Linked DNA regions of Homo sapiens: region 1 is linked to region 2. Evidence: fine-mapped expression QTL. Tissue or cell type: blood mononuclear cells. Region 2 holds a variant in brackets; the other region holds the start of a gene. All regions are shown on one strand. Distances are from middle to middle.

What was found. PIP is the estimated chance that this variant, and not a neighbour inherited with it, causes the effect.
Region 1: it holds the start of TGFBI, and the variant in region 2 is fine-mapped to the expression of TGFBI in blood mononuclear cells (TOPMed, PIP above 0.99). The same link has a PIP of 0.9 or more in T cells, monocytes and whole blood.

What each region holds. Positions count from the first base shown.
Region 1 is chr5:136,023,531-136,033,330 of GRCh38, reverse strand. TGFBI (transforming growth factor beta induced) reads right to left here and starts at 4,343. Exons shown (of 17, transcript NM_000358.3): 1 at 4,142-4,343. The coding sequence starts at 4,275. LOC105379189 (a long non-coding RNA gene) reads left to right here and starts at 7,438. Exons shown (of 4, transcript XR_948809.3): 1 at 7,438-7,513; 2 at 8,389-8,468; 3 at 8,552-8,672. RefSeq lists an enhancer at 2,057-2,126.
Region 2 is chr5:135,994,413-136,005,471 of GRCh38, reverse strand. No RefSeq gene overlaps it. Among named protein-coding and RNA genes, the nearest start is that of TGFBI, 29 kb to the left of the region's middle. RefSeq lists an enhancer at 3,605-4,106. The variant T/G (reference allele first, on the strand shown) is at 5,932.

The DNA of each region.
Region 1 (9,800 bases), 28 kb before region 2:
CTCTCAGGACCCTGATAGGGGATGCTCTCCCATTTAACTCTCAGTTGTTCATTACTTAGATCACAGCTCAAGTCCCACTTCCCCCAGGAGCCTTTCTCCAATGTCCCAGATGACATGCTGCTTCCCATCCTCTGACAGTGGATACGGTCCTTATTTGATGTTGGGTTCCAAACAGAATTCCTGTAAGTGATGCGGGGAGGTGGGGGGTGTCTCTTCTCTGCATCTAACACTCAACAGAACCTTGAGGACAAGTGTTCTGCCTTGTTCTGTTGTTCACATTCTAGATGGGGCCTAGCATCCAGGCAGGGTGTAGAAGGAGCACGAAATGAACTTGTTGAAAATACTGCTCCCCAAACTACCCAGATCCAAAGAATCCTCAGGGACCCTGTGAAAAAGCAGAGTGTAAATGTCTGGGGGTTCTGCTAAGAAGCCTTTTCCAGAACCACAGGATTTTGGTTTTGCATGTTTTTTTCAAGTATACCAAGTCCTGACCCAAACTGTGCTCAGGCCAGGTGATTGTGAAAGCTTCATTAGGAGCCCCTAGGGAAAGGAAGCTGCTGTGCTACGTGGTCAGTCAGGAGAGGCGTGGTCAGTCAGGAGAGGGTTGATCTTCCTGAGCCAGAGGCAGGCATGCATCTGACTGAATCACAAGTCAGAGGAAAGCAAATAAAACAAACAATACTGAGGGCTTTCACAAGACCTCCAAGCTCAGAGAACTTCAGGTATCACCCAAAGGATGAAGTATTTCTTTAACATCAATTTCCCTGTTACTTTAAGAATGCCATCCACAGACATCACTTGATGTGCAGCGTATTTGTTAAGAAGACACCAATATTGCAGTAAAAACTACACCTACTGTCCCCATCATGATTCCTCTGCAGGAACTTGAACAATTCTCAAATATTCAGAGTCAGGCTTTTGGGTGGGAGTCCATTCTGCCCCTTCATTTCTCTGCCCTGTCTCTTCTGCGGTGATATGACTGTCACCTCTTGGCCAGTTTTTTGTTCAACAGGTGAAAGTGAGTGGGCCCAGGAGGGACAATGAGCATTAATGAATCCATGTAAGGATCTAGGGACAAGAGAAGTGAAGGCTGGAGAAGGGACCACAGCCAGCAGAGGCCCATGCCTCCCTAGTCCTAGCTGGGCCTGACCAAATCCTCCAGATTTCTGAATACCTGGTTTCTGTTTGCTGCCTAGGATTCACAGGTTAGACAGTCCCTGAATAACCCCTGAAGAGTCCTTGCTGGCCATACTCCAGCCCCCGGTCCTATTTATTGTTACAGAATCCCAGAAGCTCTTCAATCTGATCAAGCAGGAAACAATTACTGTCAATGAATTCCCTGCCACTTTCCGTAGGCGTTTGGCGAATCTTCAGTGAGTCTCTTGTGGATGTGGCTCCAACATTCCTTTGCTGAATGTTTCCACTGCTGCTGTCCTTGTGGCAGCAGCAGAGGCTGGGGGCGGCTGTGACCCTCTCCTTCTCACATCGGGGAGTGTGGGTGGGCTGTGTACATAGGAAGTTCATGCTGAAGCTTAATTGAAATGAGCAAGTTGCTTCTGGGCCTCAAGAATAACAGCATTGATGTTCAGCTTAGATTTGAAAACCAAGTGCTTCAGGAAATTCAGTTCAGTTTTTGGTGGTTGATGTTTGGAAGTGTGATTGTATTTTTACTTCTCTTTCAGTATTATTTTTCCCCTTCCCTATAGCAACACAGATATAGCTGGGAGTCAAGAGACCATATCATAGTTATTACTCTCCCAACAGCATTCTGTGTCTGAACTAAGTCACTCTCTACCTCACTAAGCTGCAGTTTCACCTCCTGTAAAATGGGAACATGAACAGTAGATCTCACTGTGTTGTGGTGAGGTCGAAAGCAAAAGCGGCAATCGAGTGCTGCGCACAAGCAAGGCACAGCTGTTATTTCTTCCTTCATATCAGGCAGCACGCTACAATTCCTTAAAATAGCAAAGTTTTCCTTCCCTTTCTAACAGTTTTCACTTTGAATGAAAGGCTGGAGCTAGAACAACGTTATCCATTTGCACAAGGCGCCACAGCCCTGTGTGCCAGGCCAGGCAGCCCTGTGGCATTAACAGGGACAGTTAGATCAGAGTAAATACAACTGTGCCTGCAACCATTTTGCCATGGTTCATGTGCCTGCGCATCCAGATTCTACTGGGACAGGGGTGCTCCTGTGACTTCTTAGATTACTCTGCCCATCACAGATTACAATAGGCCTTTCCAGCTGTGCTGCAGGAAGCTAATTAAGAGGCTTTGCCTGCAGGGGTATGGTGGGGAAGTTGATCTAATATCTGGAACTCATAATCAAGAGCATCTGCATTTAAGAAAAAAACCCTGTTTTCCAGCTGGTCAGCACTCTTCTGGGCTCTGAAGGGAAAGAGGTTTGCTGTAAAGATGGCTCTTGATGGAAAGCCCTCAATACCTTTGAGGATCCTTCACTGTGGCTGTGCAGAGAGATGCCCTTACAGGTGACACTGTTGCAGGGCATGCTATAAGGATCTTCTCCTGACTTAGTGGCGAAGATACAGAAGAAATAGAACCCTCCTAGGCAAATTGAGGCACCCAAACATAACACAATTCATTGGCAGGAAAGGCAGAGAGACCAACGGAGAGGTGGGCAGAGATAATAAAAATGCCAGGTGCTTGCATTTTGATGTTGAGGCCTCATATCCCTCTCATCTTTCTGACATCCCCCCTCACTCTATTCTGCACACTGCCCAAGTCAAAGCTGATTCTCCCACTTCCAGAAAGACCCCAGGATATCCCCAGTATTCTCCTCTTTCCAGGAGGGTGTTGAGGTTGCAGCCAGGCCTGGTTTGATTTCACTCTGCAGGGTGGCCAGATGTGCTCCCAGCAGGCCCTCTCCGCCAGAGCCCCAAACTCCTGAAAGGCCTAGACCATAAAGCCACAAGTAGAGGAAACAAGAGCAACTATGCCCTACAAGGGGCAGCCTGTACCCGTACCCAGAGCACTCCTAGTGCAAGGAGCCAAGACTTTCAGGGCCTGTGAAGTCAACTCTATCACCCCCAACAATGAGTTTTGATTTGAGCACAGATCTGCCCAGTCTCTTGGAGGTTTGGGCATTGCTTGTGGGTGTGAACGCCAGACCCCGATGGTATTTAGGCTTCCTCTGAGGAGTCACTACAAGATTCTACTCATATATAGTTTTACCTAGTTATGAAAAAGAAGTTGGTGCAACCAGGTAGGCTGGAAGCTGCAGCAAAGCCTGGGTATTTGTGACGCAGGTATGGCCTGGTTTTTGAGGTAGAAATGTTGCCTGCCTCTGCCTGGGTCAGTATTAGGGCCACTATCAGACCAGACCTTCTGCTTGAGTTTGTCTCCTAAAGCCAACACATCTTCAGGGTCTCAAAGGAATTCCTGCAATGATAGTGTCCTACATTTACAAACCCAGCTATTACTTTAAGACAGACTCCAATCCTGGCTCCAGTGCACACTTCAGGACTGTGGGAAAGTGGAACCACTCAGGACTCAGTTTCCCCATTTGAACAGTGTGTGTGAGGGCCCAGTGCATTCTCCTGCTCTTCATCGGGCAGGACAAGAAGTGCCACATTGCCCTTGCTGTACCCAGAGAGCAGTGTCGGGTGCCAGCAGTGTCTGAGTGCAGGGCCTGGCCAGGAGCACAGGAGCCTGGGGCACCTTAGATGCTGCCACCGTGTGTGGCCCAGGTTCTTGTCTGGAGTCGCTGGCCGGGGGCCTGGCTGGGTTGGAATAGGTGTACTGCTGGGTGGGCTTTGCCCTTGGCACCCTCCCACGGTGATTATGGCCAAAGAGTTGCCATTTCCCCCTTTCTGCAGTGGCTGGGAGGAGAAGCTGAAAGCGCTGTCCGTCTCAGGCTCTTGGCCTGCGTCGAAAGTCTCTGGTCCACTTCCCCACTCCCTTCTACAAAGCGGCGGCCTCCCGCTTTCCCTCCATGGTCCTCCACCTCCCTCCCTCTCTCCTTCCACCGCGTGCAGGGCTGGTGTCCGAGCGCTCCATGCTGCAAGGTTTTTAGTTCGGGCTTTGTCCCCTGCGCCCCCAGCCCAGTTCAATGCCCCCAGCGGCTTGCGCTCCGAGCCCCGACTACCTGACCTTCCGCAGCCCCTGGCCAGGCGGCTCGGCTTACCCGTGCTGGCGGCCCCGGAGCCTGCTGTGCTGCAGCACCAGCTGGTAGGGCGACTTGGCGGGACCCGCCAGGGTCGCGGCGGGGCCCAGGGCCAGAGCCAGGGCGAGAGCCAGCAGCCGCACGAAGAGCGCCATGGAGCGGGACGACGCGCACCGAGCGAGCTAGCGACCGACGGGCAAGCGGGCGGCTCCAGGGAAGTGAGAGCGCCTCCGCCGCCCGGGCCAGGTTAAGTAAGCTGCGAGCGGGAGGGAGCGGACGCCAGGGGCGGGGAAGCTGGGCCGGCCCGTGCAAGGAGGGCGGGCCGCCTGGCGCCTCCCAACCCGTGCGCCCCTGGCTGCCCTGGGCACCCACCCGCTCCCGCACTGTGCCCGTGCTCAGTTTTCCCAGCCCTTGCCCTCACTGCCAGCCCTCCCTCCCTCTCTCCCTCGCCACAGTCTTCCTCAAACCAAGGGTATAGGTCCCTTAGGCCTCCTGTGGCTGCTTCCAAATGGGGACCTTGGGACTGAGGGACAGCTGTCTCGGGGGCTTCGGTCCTGCATGCTGGGGGCCCGAAGATTCCCTCACTGATCTTGAGGCTACAAAACACTGCAGGGAGGGGTGAGGGGAGGCAGTGCTGATTCCCAGAACACCATGGCCCATCAGACTTGTTTCTGCACCCCAGGAGCTGACCACCCTCCCCAGCTCCTCAATCTCTAATCCCTCCACCCCCACCCCACCTGTCATGCTCATTGAAAGACAGATGAGTAAATCGTGTGATCCACAGAAACGCCAAAAATGTGGGGCAGGTTTTGTTGGGCTCTAAGCTGCTTTTGGAGCCCGTGGGGAAGGGTGGGGTCCTCACCTTGGTACTAATTCATTCCCTTCTTCAGTAAACATCTCTGCAACAGTACCTGCCAGATAGATTCTGCAAAGGCAAGAGTCCTGCCCTGGAGGAGCTCAAGGCAGGTAAACAAATTGTCACATGGTAAAGAGGTGATACTTACCCAAGCATCTATTAATCACCTGTCAGTTACTTGGCACTGCTAGCCCTGGGGAGACACAGATGGATTAATAGAATGAGTGAGACCTAAGCCCTTTGTGAAAAAGCTCCAATTTGGGAAGATCCGTAGCCCAAGCCAATGATGTTCCATGAAGAGTAGCTGGGGCTTTGGGAGCTAAGAAGAGGCACCTGGCCCTGACAGGGTGATACCTGCTCTGAGGCCTGAAAGATGAAAATGAGTTAATCAGGTAAACTGAGGCATGCATTCACGAAACTCAAGTTATCTGGTTGGCTGAAGCACAGGGAGGTGGAGTCAAGGGTAGGGAAGAAGGGGAGGAAGGTAGCAGGGCCCAGACTCCAGCTAAGAGCCTAGCGGGTGATGGGTGGAGGCAAGTGACATGGCCAGTGTCATGAGAGGCTTAAGGAGGCAAGAAGAACAGGTAACCAGGAAGGGACCATGGGAGAGCTTGAACTATGGTGGTAGAGGCAGAGATGGGGAAGGCTGGGCAAATGTGAGGGGTGTAGGAGGTAATAGTCTCAATAGAATTTGGAGTCTGTATACAGGGAGAAGGGGAGAAAGGAGAGTCAAGGATATTGTAGGGTGTTTGTGGTCTGGACATTGCAGCAGGTGATGGTGCCATGTTCAGAATGAGGCACATGCAGAGTGCAGGCTTGCCAGGTAGATGAGTGGTTTGGGACACCCTGAGTCTGAGGTGCTTATGACTCATCCTGGTGAAGCATCCCATGAGGATAAAGCTGGATATGAGGATCGGGGGCTTGAGTGAGGGACGCGGGATGAAGATTCACACCTGGGAGTCATCCTCCAGTGACAGAAGAGCCCAGGAAGTAGAGAATGTGGGGTTGTAGTCAAGGAGGGGTATCCTAGTAGGAGGGCGCTGCTCAAAGTGAGGAATGCTGCCAACAAGACAGATCTGAATGGCTTTCACTGTGTCAGAAGCAGAGAGGCCACTGGGGACTTGGCTGTGGAGAGCAGATGGCCAAAGCCCGAATATGGTGGTTTGATGGAGAGATGAGTAGCATGTAGAAGCTTGTCTGAGAAGGGAAGGGGCGAGTTAGGATGGCAGCCAGGGAAAGAAAAAGACAAGCGGGGCTTGGAGAGGTTAGAACTCTGGTAGAAAGAAGGTGGGAAGGAGAAGGGAGAGAGTGTGGGCACTGGAGGAGGGCCTACTGAGAGCATAAAGCAACTGAGGGCCTGCATGGGGAGTGATCAAGCTAGTGGAGAGGAGGGAACAGGTGTATGGGAGATTTTAGTGGTAGCATTGATTAGACTTGGAAACCCCTTGGGCATGCAGGGTTAGGGAGGGGGAGTAGAGCTAACCTCGAGGCTCATAGCTGGCAGGAAGGGATGCCTGTGCTGGGCACGCTGGTGAAGGTGCACATTTGGGTGTGTGAGGAGAGTGCTCCATTTGTGTTCACATTATGTGTGAACAAGCCACCTGCATTTCCAGGAGGGATGGACAGGAGGGAGCTATATTCAAAGGTCTTGAGCTCAGGATAGGTATGAGGATTGGAGATGCAGATTTGAGTCACCACTACGAGCAGGTGGTAGCTAAAGTCATGCACTGGATGAGCTTCCTTGGGAGCAGGTGTTGGAAGAGAGGAGGAGGAGGAAGGAGAAGAAAAGGAGAAGATGGGTTCAAATACCAGTCTTTCTACTTCCTAGCTGTGTGGTCTTGGGCAAGTTATTCAACCTCATAGAGAGGATAATAAAACCTACCTCACAGGACTCTAAACTAGATTACATGATACAATTCAAGTAAAATGGCCAATAAATATGCATTGCTATTATTATTATTACCTCTCCCCAGTCATTGTTCTATATAGTAGGGTTCAATGAAACAATATGATAGTTTTGAGCAACTACAGAAATAATTATCTGAAAATGCTCATTTCATTTATTGAAAGCAAAACATTTCTCGGTTTCAGCATGACTGCTTGGCATAGGATAATGGGAAGAACCCAAAGGGATTCAAGCTCAGGCTGACTCCCAGAACAAGTTTCCCCTGAGACCAGTAGAATTTGGCTGCATTGCAGTTTCTAGGAAAAATGCTCCTTGTATGTAAGAGGCCAGGAGCCCTGCCATCTGGTTCCAGCTCTCTCTCTAGCAAGATTTAGGGCAAGTCAAGCAAGTTCACTGGACCTCACTTCTCCAGTCTGCAAAACTAACATTCGATGACTTGAGTTTTTCCATGAGCTCAGTAAAGAGATTGCAGTAATACTTTATTTATGGTTTAGATATTTTTTTAAAATCCCACATCCATGCCCCACCACCCATCCCCTCTTTCAAACATGAAAAGCAGAATGCTGTGAGTATAACCATTCTCCCACCTGAGGTTGCTGCTTCTTTGGAGACAAGAGTGATGCTGCTGGAGGTAAGAGCAGGGACCCTCCATCCCCAGATGACCCAGAGCCAACCAGGCAAACACAGAGCACCAGAAACCCTGTCATTTGAGAAAGAATTTTTTCCTTCCAGATTAAACAATCTAAACAGGAGAAAGTGAGGCTTGCTTGGAAGAATCTTTACTAGACTTTTTCAAGCACTTTTTAAAAAATGACTGCTTTTACATTTTGTGGCACATGAAAGGTCACCAAAAACATTCAGGTTTTGAAAATAATACTGTAGGGTATGACAACAAGCTTTATGCATCATGATAAATTAGTAGTTCCAACAAGTTCTTCACAAAGGAACCTAGGAAAGAAACTGGTTCTGGGCCTGTTGGTGGGAGAGCTGGCATCTGCAGCCCAGCTGACACCAGGCCTGCCTTTTCCTTACTCCCTAAAGTTCCTGGTGATGCTTGGGCATACATGGAGACAGAAGATACAGTCAAAATCATTTTCAGAGGCCACCATATAGCTAAATAAAGAGCTCTTAAAATTCAGCTCCCCAAGACTTGCTAGGGAGAAAAAAAGGTGAGTTTTGGCAAGAGATATCCAAATGAAAAGATGTGAATCAAATTTTGGGGAAAATTGCCATCCCTTGTGTAACACACAGAACTTAGAATGGTACTTCATATACAGTAATTGTTTTTTCCATGTTACAAATAAAGGTAAGAAACATCTCAGTTTACTAACATTAAGGTGTGATTGTAGTACCATTTAGGGGATTTTGGATTGATTTCTCAAGGATTTTCCACAGTCTTGCCACTCAAAATGTGATCTGCAAAACAGCATCATCAGCACAACCCCAGAGTTCATTAGAAATGTGGAAAATTTAAAAATTTTTTATTTATTTATTTATTTTTTCTAGCTCTCATGAAGAAACGTGGAATCTTATAACCTCCCAACCTCCCAAGACCCACTGAATCTGCATTTTCACCAGATCCCAAGGTGATTTGTATGCACAGGACTACAGGGTCATGTTAAATAGCTATGAGCTCAGAGGTGGTTAACAGAGGATTCAATTTATGTAGGCATGGAAGAAACGAAATACACCTGAAAATGTGTACCAGTGAAGTGACCACAGAGGAACTCTCATCTTCCGCTGAGGCCCAGCTCACTTTGTGGAAGACCTTCAAGATGCCCAGGCACAAGGTCAGTAGTTGCATATTCAGTGTCTTCCACACACTGGACAGGGAGGGGAAATTGGCCACAGTCACCTTCCATTCTTCTCTCTTTTCAAAGCCCGCAAGGGAGGCTGGGATAATCGACAGGTTTGTAATGGCAGGAACTTAAAACAAACTTGAGGCTTCGGGCTCTGCAATTGATGGGAACAGAACAGCCGTCGCAGCCCTAGAATGGCATTAGGCCCCAGTGTTTAGTTTCTTAAATGACTTGGCTGTTTTCACAACTTCTCCAAACACTGGCTTTCTTAATCAGGGCCTGCCAAATGCTACTTGTTGGTTAGAACCCAATTTCATTTTCCAGGGAAACCGATTTTTCATGAGAGTTTCATTGATTTGGCTCAGCTAAAATATCTAAGAAGAATCCAGAGGCACTTTTGAGGTTGCTTTAGTTGCCTGACCTCAAATACTTTAGTGGAAGGATGCCCACAGATGATTGTTGGCTTACACATGCCTTTCCTCTGCTTCCCACGAGTTTTCTTGCACGTAGGATAAAGGCCTTCAGGGAAATGGACACCACCCAGCAGCAATTCATTCCAAAATGCAGAAATCCCTTGGCTCTTTCGTCCAGCTCCCCTTCTTCATTTCTTCATTCTTGCCTGTGGTGCCGCTCAAGGTTGGAAACCTTGCATTCAGTTTTGCCTGTCCCTGCTCTCTGGTCCCCCACGTGCAATCAGTCACCAAGATCCTGCAGGTGTTCTTTCCAAATCTCTCCTAGATGCTTCTGTTCCCTCTTTTGCTACTCAAATACTCCAGCTCCCCACTGCCTTACCTCTCACCACCCACAGCCTCCAGCCAGTCTGACATCAGCTGCCACCCCAGCCAACCATCTCCCAACGTGGCTGGTCTTATCTTCCTAAAACACTTCTACCAAAACACTGCACTCCTAGGACACTCCCGATGGCTTCTATTGTTTGTAAAAGAAAATCCAGACTTCTCTGATTGTTTATTTATTTTTTTGATGAACATTTTATCCTCCCCAGCACCCCACCATGTTAAAAAGGAATACAGGCACATTACCAAAAAAAGAAAAACCTTAAAAAATACTGAAAAGGCTAGATAAGAGGAACACACACATCCATAATCCCTATACTGAAAG
Region 2 (11,059 bases):
GACACCCAAGATGTCAAGGGCAGTGACAAGTACAAACCCCTAAAACTTCTCTTTTATAAATCAGTGGGTCTAGATAGACCTTTCACTATTTGAGGAGGGGTGGAGGGGTGGGGACTGGGGGGAGAAAATCATGAAACTTCTGAAAAAGTACTCAGGTTTGCAATTAAAAATGTTTTTAATGCAATATCTGAAAAAAAAAATTAAGTCAACAAGGAGCAGAGCTGACACCATAGAAAAGTGAATCAGTAATGTGGAGGGCAAGAATGAGATCAAAGGAGAAGAGCAAAATGATGAAAATGATGAGGAAGGACAGGATGATTCGGTCCTCCTTCTCTGTCCTGCTATATCCAAGAATTACAGAACTTCTGAAGAAAGAAACCCACTCAAGTGGGAAGAAAGCAATAATCAAAGATATCATTAGAGAAAACAGCCCTTAGTATGCAAATCGAAATGGCCCATAGCATTCTAAAAAAAATAAATTTAAAGGGGGCTGTCTAGAAAAGAGTTCACCGAGCAGGCCTGAAGACTGCAATACTTAGAAAGGCCTGCTACTAAACACCTGCTCTCTTGGAATTTTAGTTCATGCTAGACAGAAGGACCTACATGATCATGATCAGACCCCAGTAAAAAAAACTTGTGTAATGGGTCTCTGATGGGCTTCCCTAGACAGATACATCATGCATACGTTGTTTCATTTTTCTCACTGGTGAAGAGTAAGCTGTGCGTGACTCCTAATGGGTGAGAGAGAGCATGAGGAAACCTGCACATGAATTCCTCCAGACTGCCTGTGCCTTTTCCCTTCATGAGCCACTCATATATCCTTACAACACTGCTGTAATAAATCTTGGCTATGAGTACACTTTAAGCTGAGTACACTTTAAGCTGAGTTTTGTGAGTCATTTTAGTGGGTTTCCAAACAGCGATGGACCTGTGGCCTAGGGGATCCCTGACAGAGAGGCCTCACTGTGTCACAGGGGCTAAAACACATTCTAGCAACATATTTGAATTATAAGACTAATTTGTTTTCATGTCATGAGCATTGAGGGAAAAAAAATACCTCTTTCAAAGTTTACAAAATTGGTTGGCTTCAGACTTGTCCTTTGCCACCCTGTATAGAGCAGGCTTTAGAAAGTTTTGAAGGAAGAAAGTTAGGATCCAGTAATTTTGCAGCCTTATGAAGGCAACAGACAGACATTCTTAGACATTCAAGGACTTGAAATAGACTTATACTAGTGACTGAGGTAATAAACTTGAAGAACACAGGCCGGGCGCAGTGGCTCACGCCTGTAATCCCAGCACTTTGGGAGGCTGAGGCAGGTGGATCACCAGGTCACAAGATCGAGACCATCCTGGCTAACACCGTGAAACCCCATCTCTACTAAAAATACAAAAAAAAATTAGCCTGGCCTGGTGGCGGGCACCTGTAGTCCCAGCTACTTGGGACGCTGAGGCAGGAGAATGGCGTGAACCCGGGAGGCAGAGCTTGCAGTGAGCCGAGATCACGCCACTGTGCTCCAGCCTGGGCAACAGAGCGAGACTCTGTCTCAAAAAAACAAAAACGAAAACAAAAAACAACAACAACAAAAAGGGAATTCTGGATATGCAGCTCTTCTTTTATGGAGCATAGATCCCAAATTCAAAAGTCCAGTTGGACTGTGTTATCAGAGAATTCTGAGATTTTATGCTTAGCCCTTTGCTATTTCCCTAAGCTGTCCTTGGCTTCTGAAATTTTATAAGAAGACCAAGAAATTAATTTCTTATGCCATATCTTTCACCCTACAATTTAGGAAGTATCACCTGCAATGACGGATGGCCACCAAAGCTATTACGCAGTGTAGGTCTTTCTTAATGATTGTTAAACATAAAGGATGATGAGACCTATGGGTCTCAATTTGTAGGAGTACCTGTGTTGAGGATTGTGGCATTGAGGATTACTGTATTGAGCAAGATTCTGAGCCCCTTCTGAGCTCTGCGGGAGAGAATGCAGGGGTCAGTGAGTGACACCCAACCTGGGGAAAAAGGGAGCAGGGTGGTACATTCATTTCTTACCTGCTATTCTTGATGTATATATTCAGAAGATTGTGGTTTAAAAATTAATAAACAAAAATGACCAAAAATGAATATAAATACTTTCTGTAATTGTTGTGCTAGAAAATAAAATAACCGCAACTTCAATTTTAAACAATAGGACAATATCTGTATTTAATGCTAAGGTTTACTTAATATTTTAGGTAAGACAGAAAAAAAACTTTAAAAAATAAAATACTGTAGGAAGAAAGTACCAAGAAAAAGATTGATAGATTAGCTGCATAGCATTTTTGAACCTCTATTTCACAAAAATACAAAACATCATAAGCAAGATAAGAAGGCAGATAACAAACCGAGAGACATGTTTGCAACACAGGTGGCAAAGGATCAACATCCTTAATGTAAAAGGCTTTTGCAAATCAACGTAAAAATAAATTACCTAATAAATTACATTGTGTGAAGAGCATGAACATTGAGTTTACAGAAGGTTAAGTTAAAATTGACAATGAATGAAAAAGTTTCCTATTTGGATCACTAAAAAAAATGAAAGGTATAAAAAGGAATCATGCATTTAAAAAAATCTTCTTTGCTATTTTCGTAAATGAAAGATTATAATGCTTAGTGTTGCAAAGAGTAAAACTTTTCTTAAAGGCAATTTCCCTCATCTTTCAAAACTTCTTAAAGTATCATGCATGTCTATTAGCTCAAATTCCACTACTGGCAAATCAATGGATATAGCCTTAAGGGTATCTGTATTGAATGATCATCTCAGCATTATAATGACAACATTTGGAACAACCCAAAGTCAGGGGATTGGCTAAACAGGTTCAGCTAAATCTATGTAATGAGATATACGCAGCTGTTAAAATCATGCATACAGGACTATTGGTTGAATAGTCCCCATCTACTGCTTAGTGAAAAACAGGACACAAACTGCCTTGCATTTCATGTATAGTGTGTACGGTGGAGGTAGTTATGAGCTGTGAAATTTGGAGTTACCCAACCTGCAACTGAGTCCTGAGTCCTGGTCCCACCACACCTTCCTGGGTGATCTTGAGCGGAGCTCCTGCCCCTCTTAACTGCAGTGTCTTCATTTGTAAAAATGCTGTTAATGAAATTATTTACTCATAGGGTTGTACTATATGCAACCTGAAATTATCCCCTGCGAAGTACTTAGAATACTGCCTAACTCAGCAGCGTGCATTAGGTCCCGATATTTTTTTTTAATGATGCTAAAAAATAATCAAGAAAAATAGACCACTGACAGAACACATCAAAAAAAAATCTTGATAATGGGGCTGTTACTTTTTGCTTCTTTTCATTCTTCTAGGTTTTCTGCATTAAACGTAGAATACATTTACACTGTTCATAACACACACACAGGCAGACACACACAGACACACACACAGTAAATATCGACTTTACTAGGAGGTTACTATGAGTCTTGGGAAAACAGCTGAAATCCATCTTTCTAGAAAGAAAAGGAAGAAGAAACGGCCAAATGAGGGGGAAACCACCCCCACACTCTAGGAAACACAAGCTCCCCAGCCTCTTGGCCTTCAAGGCAGAGGAGGGCCACTCCCCAGCCTGCCAGCCAGCAGGCCATGGGGTCACCCTGTGGGGCCACACCCCATGCAGGCTGCATACTGCCCCATTGTCTAAGCATGGCCCCACTGAAGTCAACGAGAAACAGATGGTGAGAAACATTTCTGCTCTTCCACACCTAGGATGCGGTTCTGCTCTGAGCATCCAGCACCAGTGAGGCAATCTGCTTTTCATTTATGGGCAGAGAAAAGCCACAGAGGAAGGAATGAGGGAGGCCATAGTTCTCAGAGTGTCGGAGGAGTTGATGCAATAATAATTCAATTCCCCCTACTCTGAAAAGCAAGGCAGTCCAACCCGGCAGGATGCCTGCAGCCAGGGCTGTAAACTCCAGCTCACCTCAGGCTACCTCCAGCTGAGCAAGCCCACACCAGAACCTGTGGGCCTGAACTCTTGCAGGGGAAGAGTTCAAACAGGGCCTTTTCCAGTTTGCATCATGTGGCAGAGCCCTGTAGCCAATCAGCTGGAAGCGAGTTCCAGGTAGGTGGGATGGGAAGGATCTGGACTGGGGGGCCTCCTCACAAGGGAATCATCATGGACACTGGCAACTAGGGGGTAGCTCCTCTGGCCAGTGTAGTTCTTTCTTCCCTTTGCCTGGGTAGAAGCATGGACTTTGAAGCCAGCTGTCTGGGACCCTATCCCAGTTCTCTGCTTACTTGCTGTGTACCTTAGGTGAACTGCTTTAACTTTCTGAGCCCCTGCTTCCTCATCCGAATTGTGGGCATGAGACTAGTGTTACCCAACAGGAAATATGAAGACTGCAGGAGATAATCCATAGGAAGTGTCTACGCTGTGCTTGGGTCATGGAAAGTGCTCATTAACTGTTAGTTATTATTATTATTATAATTGCCAGATTCTCTCTGTGTCTTATTTCCTCTTTAAACCATGGCATAATTTACACTATGACACGCTCTTGTGCATAATTTCTTCTCATAGTCCTAACCAGTTGTAGTCTCTGCTTGAGGGTGATCTATGCCTGTGTACCCTCTATCGGTCCCCCTGGCAGTCACCATCCCTCTGGACAAAAATTTGCGTGGTCTTTGGAATGAGTCTGGGTAATTGAGTGGCAGCCAACCTCTGCCAGCATCCTCCCTCATCGGGAGACTGTGGAGCAGGGGCAATGGTCTCCTGAGCCAAAGAACAGCTTGCAGATGGCCCCAGTGAGAAGTGCCACTCTGAAGCCCTAAAAGATGATAAGGGAGAGTAGGAGAAGCAAGCCCAGAGAAGAAAGAAAGTGGAGAATGGTCCCCAGAGGAAGGGAGGCAAACAGGGAGCAACAGTTACACAGGTGACTGCAATGTGAGAAGCATCCAAGAACGGACAGAGTTTCAAAATGCTCAGGAAAAAGCAAGGTGCAGTCTTCTGGATGTGGTGGCAGAAAAGACCCCAAGAGAAAGACATCATCAACATAAAAGCCTGGAAAAAATAGGGATCATAAAGATGCCTGTGTGACTGACAAACAAATTAGAGGTGTAGGAAAAGAAAAGAGCGGGAATGGCAGGTTGCAGGTAATTGAGATTTTTCAGAACAAGATGACAAGTAAACTACATCAAAGCATGTCCAAGTCAGGTTTGACTGGCAGTTTTCCCTGAATGTGCTAATTACTCTTATTTGTTCTCAAACAAAAATTATTTATTTATCATGAGGGCTGAGGGCCCAGGGTGTGGGAGAGCATCTTCTCTCAGCAAGCAGGTGAGTAGCTCAGTTTGAATGACGGAAGATACATGACTATAGAGCAACACAGTCACTTTTCATCAAGATTGAACCCTATGGCTATATCTTTGAGAAGCCACTGCATCAAAGACCTGGCTCAGATAAGAGTTTCCGGAGAAAAAGAGAAGGTGGCAGCCAGAATAACTGTGATACTGTCCTTTTTGTACCAGCCAGGATAGGCTAGGTGATGCTGCAGTAACAAACAATCCTAAATCTTAGGGGCTTTAAACAACAAAGATTTATTTCTGTCATCTGTGCCACAAGTCCATTTCGGGTTGGCTGGAGTTCTGTTCTGCATCCCTTCAGGGACCCAGGATAATGAAGCAGCCACCGTCTCAAACTGCTAGTCACTATAGCAGAGGACAAGGGAGTTGAGACAACACACACACTCACACACACACACACACACACACACACACACGGGCTCTTAAAACTTCAGCTCAGAATGATAGACATCATCCCTGCTCAGATTTCACCAGCCACAGTCAGGCACATGCCTATACTGAATTGCAAAGGGGATGGGGAAGTAAAATCCCACTTCCGCTGCTCAGAAGAAGAAACAGAATGTATGTGAACAGCCCTAATGAC[T/G]CACCAAACATCCATTCCAGGAGCAGGCCTCCCTGCCCGTTACTCAGCTGCCCCTCCCTTGGCCTGCGACCCCTTCAGTGGTTCTCAGTCATCTCTGCCCCTGTCCCCATCACTATCTTCAAGGCACATTTTGGATGAGATGATTGGGCATAGTGCTTCCAAATGGACTCTAATCATAAAATGAAGGAGAACACAGACTCAGAGTATTGGTGCAGAGCAGAATCTCTGAGAGGACCTAGCCCACAGCCCCTGCCTTTCTAGATGGAGAAATAGGAAGTCAAAGGAAAAACCATGTGCAATGCGCAGAATTCTAAGATGGGTCCTAAGATTCCTGGTCCCTGCTGTGCAGGCATCATCTCCTCCCTTTGAGTGTAAGTGGGACCCGTAAATAAGACTGGCTGTCACTCCAGTGACATGTTACTTTGTATGGCAAAAGGGACTTTGCAGATGTAATTCAGGCACTCTCCTGCTGGCCTGAAGGAAAGTAAACAGCCATGCTGTGAACTTCCCGTGGAGGGGACCTGCACGGCCCTCTAGGACCTGAGCGCAGCCCCTAGATTGGCTAGAAAATGGGACCTCAGCCCTACAACTGCAGGAACTGAATTCTGATTACCGGGAACCCTGAGCTCCAAATGAAAACATAGCCCTGGTTAACACTTTGATTTCAGCCTGATGAGATTGTGAGCTGAGAACCCATCTCCTCTATGTCCAGACTCCTGACCCATGGAAACTGTGAGATTAAACAAAAAAAGCCACTGTATTGTTTTAAGCCACTAAGTTGAAGGTAATTTGTTACCCAGCAATAAAAACAAGTATGTGAAAATGGGAGACTGTGTAGCAGGGCCATGGTCTCCTGAGCCGAAGAACAGCTTGCAGATGGCCCCAGTGAGAAGTGCCACTCTGAAGCCCTAAAAGATGATAAGGGAGAGTACGAGAGACAAACACCTCTAATTTGTTTGTCAGTCACACTGGCATCTTTATGATCCCTATTTTTTCCAGGCTTTTATGTTGATGATGTCTTTCTCTTGGGGTTTTTCTGCCGCCACATCCAGAAGACCGCACCTTGCTTTTTCCTGAGCATTTTGAAACACTGTCTATTCTTGGATGGCTTCTTACATTGCAGTCACCTGCGTAGCTGTTGCTCCCTGTTTGCCTCCCTTCCTCTGGGGACCATTCTCCACTTTCTTTCTCCTCTGGGCTTGCTTCTCCTACTCTCCCTTGTCATCTTTTAGGGCTTCAGAGTGGCACTCATCATGGCAGTGGCAGGTCCTGCAATTTGAGCAGTATTCAAGGCCTTTTCGTGATTTCTGTCCCACTTGCTGAACACAAACTCTCTATTCCAGGTCTGGCGGCATCTTTGCAGCCTCTCACCTGCCAGGATTGCTCCCCCTGTGGTCTTCCTCTGCCTGCTTCCCAGGGCAGGGCTCCATCCAGCGTCATTTGATGGAGCTTTCACATGCCATTCCCCAATAAAATAAAATGCCCTGAAGTGACCCCGGCCCCCTGTACTCTTCCATTCTCTGCCGGTTCCATAGCATCCAGCACAACTACAAGCCTCCCTGCAGTTGATTATATCCCAATCATATCCAATAATAAAATTCCACGAGGATTAAATCATTTAAATTGTCTCTTTTTGCCAAGACTTTAAGCTCTCTAAGGGCAACAGACGTGTTTACTCCAGGTGCTACATCAGGAATCAGAAAAGGCATTTGTACTTGTAATACACCAAACTGGAAACAGCCCAAATGTCTATCACTGAGTGAAGAGAGAAACAAATTATCTTATTTCCATACAATGAGATACTGCTCAGCTAAAAAAAAGAACAAATTATCCATAACATGCTATAACATGGGTGAATCTCAAAATCGTAGGCTGAGTGTAAGATATAAATGATATCTACTGTATGATAATTTACATAAAAATCTAGACAAAGCAAAACTCATCTATATTGACAGGAAGCAGGTGGGTGTTTGCTCATGGCTGGGGTTGGGGGGATAATGGCAAACGTTGCATTCTGGGGTGATGGAGATGTTCTGTGTCTTGATTGTCGTGGCGGCTATGTGGATGTACACGTTTGTCACAACTCATCAGATTGTATACTTAAAATATATACATTTTATTACACATAAATTATGCCTCAATAAAGTTGACTTGGAAAAAAATCTTTGTATATTCTGAGTCAGCTAAAGCTTTGTTGGAAATGCTTTGAGACATGATTTCTCATGTCTCATGATTTCTCAACATGATTTGAGAAGGGTGAGCCCAAGAAAACATCTACAGACTTCTGTTTAGGTAGAGCCATCTCCCAGAGACAGATGAGCTCCCAGGCTGAGAGCAAAGATATGCCTCAAAAGGTAAGTTAACCGACTTAAAGAGAGATTGCTTGGCCAGAAAAACCCAGAAAAAGAACAGAGAGGATGGCAAAAAGGACCCATGTATTCAGGCGGAAAGGCCTAGATTGGGGGGTTCAAGGATAGTCTGGCTGTGAGCTCTCCCCATGCTGTGTGGTGGGGTGGAGCTCTTTCAGCGGTCTCACCATGGCCCAGAGAAAGAGCTTTTGGGACCAGCCACACTGCTTTGCTCTGAATCCACAGCCACTCCACTGGCCACCAGCCTGATTAACTTCTAGGGAAGCCGGGTCCTGGGAAGAAGGCATGAAGTTTCTAACAAATATGAAGGCATCATCATCTGGATGAAGTGTCAGAGGACCATAGTCCAGGCAATGCTGCCTGCTGTGGCTTTTGATTAGTCAGGCATGACCCATTCCTCCCACTGTCACTCAAGACACTGCCCGGAGAGACAGGCACAGCCAGGGCAGCAGCCAGAATGCTGAGGATTTTGTGGGTTACCTAAAGCTGTGGAGAAGCCAGCAGGGCTCCAGACCTGGAGAGAGCCCCATAAAAAGAAAACATTCCCTTCTTTGGTAGAAAAGAAATGATACCCGAGCAGCTAGCAACCCTGACTGTGCAGAGGCAAAAACCAAGTTCTGAGGTAGGAAAAGAAAGTGTTTGTGTGAAAAGCCCGGGGGCTTGGAAGAGCCTCGGAAATGAAACAGGAAAGGAGGGAAGAGAACAGGAAAGCTCAGCTGGCTGCTGTGGGGCTCAGTGGCGAGGCATGAGCAGCAGCAGAGGCTGAAAGGGGCAGAGAGGGTGCTCACAAGGAAAGGCAAGGGGAGGAGAGCTCTGCAGTCTTAATGGGGGCATGGGGGTTGTGTGTACAATGGCTGCAGGGTGGACCCTCCTCTTGACCAAACCCCAAGTGCCCTCCGTCCCCCTGAATTCCAAGCATGATTATCAGCACTACTTTCCACTGGAGTCACCCAGCCCAACACTTGTGCGCACTGCCCTGACTCCAGCACTCCATAACCCAGCCGTCTAGACTCTGCAGTCTTCTGGCCCTAAGTCAGGGGTTGTCCACTCCTCTCTGGGGAGATGACTAGAACCTCTTAATTAGCTTCTCTCCCTCCCCACTTGTTAAACCTTATCAGCAGGTACTCCATCATGGAGAAGGAAACCAGTGCATGTTAAGCATTTATTATCCTAGGCATTTTAATTATAATTCTCATAACAGCCAGATGAAGAAGGCAGCACTATCTCCATCTTATGAAGAACCCGAGGCTCACAAGGGTTTAGTGATTTCCCCAAATTCAAACAGCTAGGAAGGGGCCAGCCGAACCAGGATCTCAACTTTCTTTCATCCACTGCTCCCACGTGGATCTTAAATACAAATCCATTCAATTCATTTCCCTGGTTAAAATCCTTCAGTGTCTTCCCACCGCTTACAGACATGTTTCTTTCAATATTTTTTGTCCTTATAGAACTACTTTCTAAAAAAAAAACACTTGTTTTACTTTATTTGTGCTAATATAACAAAACACCACAAGCTAGGTAATTTATAAACAATAGAAATGTATTTCTCACAGCTCTGGAGGCTGGGAAGTCCAAGATCAAGGTGCTGGTAGGTTTGGTATCTGGTGAGGGCTGTTCCCCACTCCCAAGATGGTGCCTTGAGCACTGCATCTTCCAGAGGCGAGGTATGCTATCTTTGCATGGCAGAAGGCGGAAGGGCAAAAGGGGCAAACTCCTTCTGCCAAGCCCTTTTATAAGGGTATCTAATCTTATTCATGAAGGCAGAGCCCTCGTGACTTAATCACCTCCCAAAGGCATACCTCCCAATACTGTTGCATTGGGGATTATGTTTCAACATAGATTTTGGAAGGAACAAAAACATTCAAACCACAGCAAATCTTTACATGAAATGCTACCCTATCACACAGAAAACAGCAGAGCTGACCCAGTGTGAGTGGGGGTAAGGCACAGCATCCTGTCTCTACTTTCATAGTTGACATGTCCACTTGAAGTTTCAGCACCATGTCAGTTTGTTTAAGGTTGAACTCTTGATCTAACTCCCAGTATCTCCCAGAGTTTTCTATCTTAAAGAATGGTTGGACCATCCATTCCAGAGCCTGTGAGCCACCTCTCTCACCATCTTCACCCTCATCCTCCTTAAGTACATTCAATTTTGCCTTCTACATCTCCCTTGAAGAAGACTTTGTCCTTCATTTGCACTTTCATCACCCAAGCATCCAAATCCAAGCTCTTACAGCCTCTTACCTAGAATAGGGGCACAGCCTCCTTACTTGCACCACAGAGCCCTGGCAGTCCACCCCCAACACAGTACTCAGACTGTGCTGACAGAAAATTCCCAGCAAAAGGAGAGGGCCACTCTGACATGGAATGTCCTGACATCCAAGTGTCATTATCATTTAGCAACCTCCCCCATCAAATACGACAGTATTTCCTCTTACTTATTATTTTATTAAAAAATGTTATAACTTTGAGATGAAACTATGCACTAAAAAGTAAGCTAAGGGTCAAAAGAATTGAGGGCTGGTTGTTTGAGTTGCTGTGGGGCCACTGAGTTTCCCCAGCTATAGAGCAGAGTTAGTTACTAGAATCTGCTTCTTCTCTCTTGCCCACAGTTGTTATGGAAATAACTTATGTAAAATGTTCAGAATTAATTACAATGAACATATACAACTAAAGCACTCTTATGTCTCACTGACATGAAATAATAAATTTGGATATATGGACATCTGGTTGACAATGTGACATTCCAAGATCTAAAA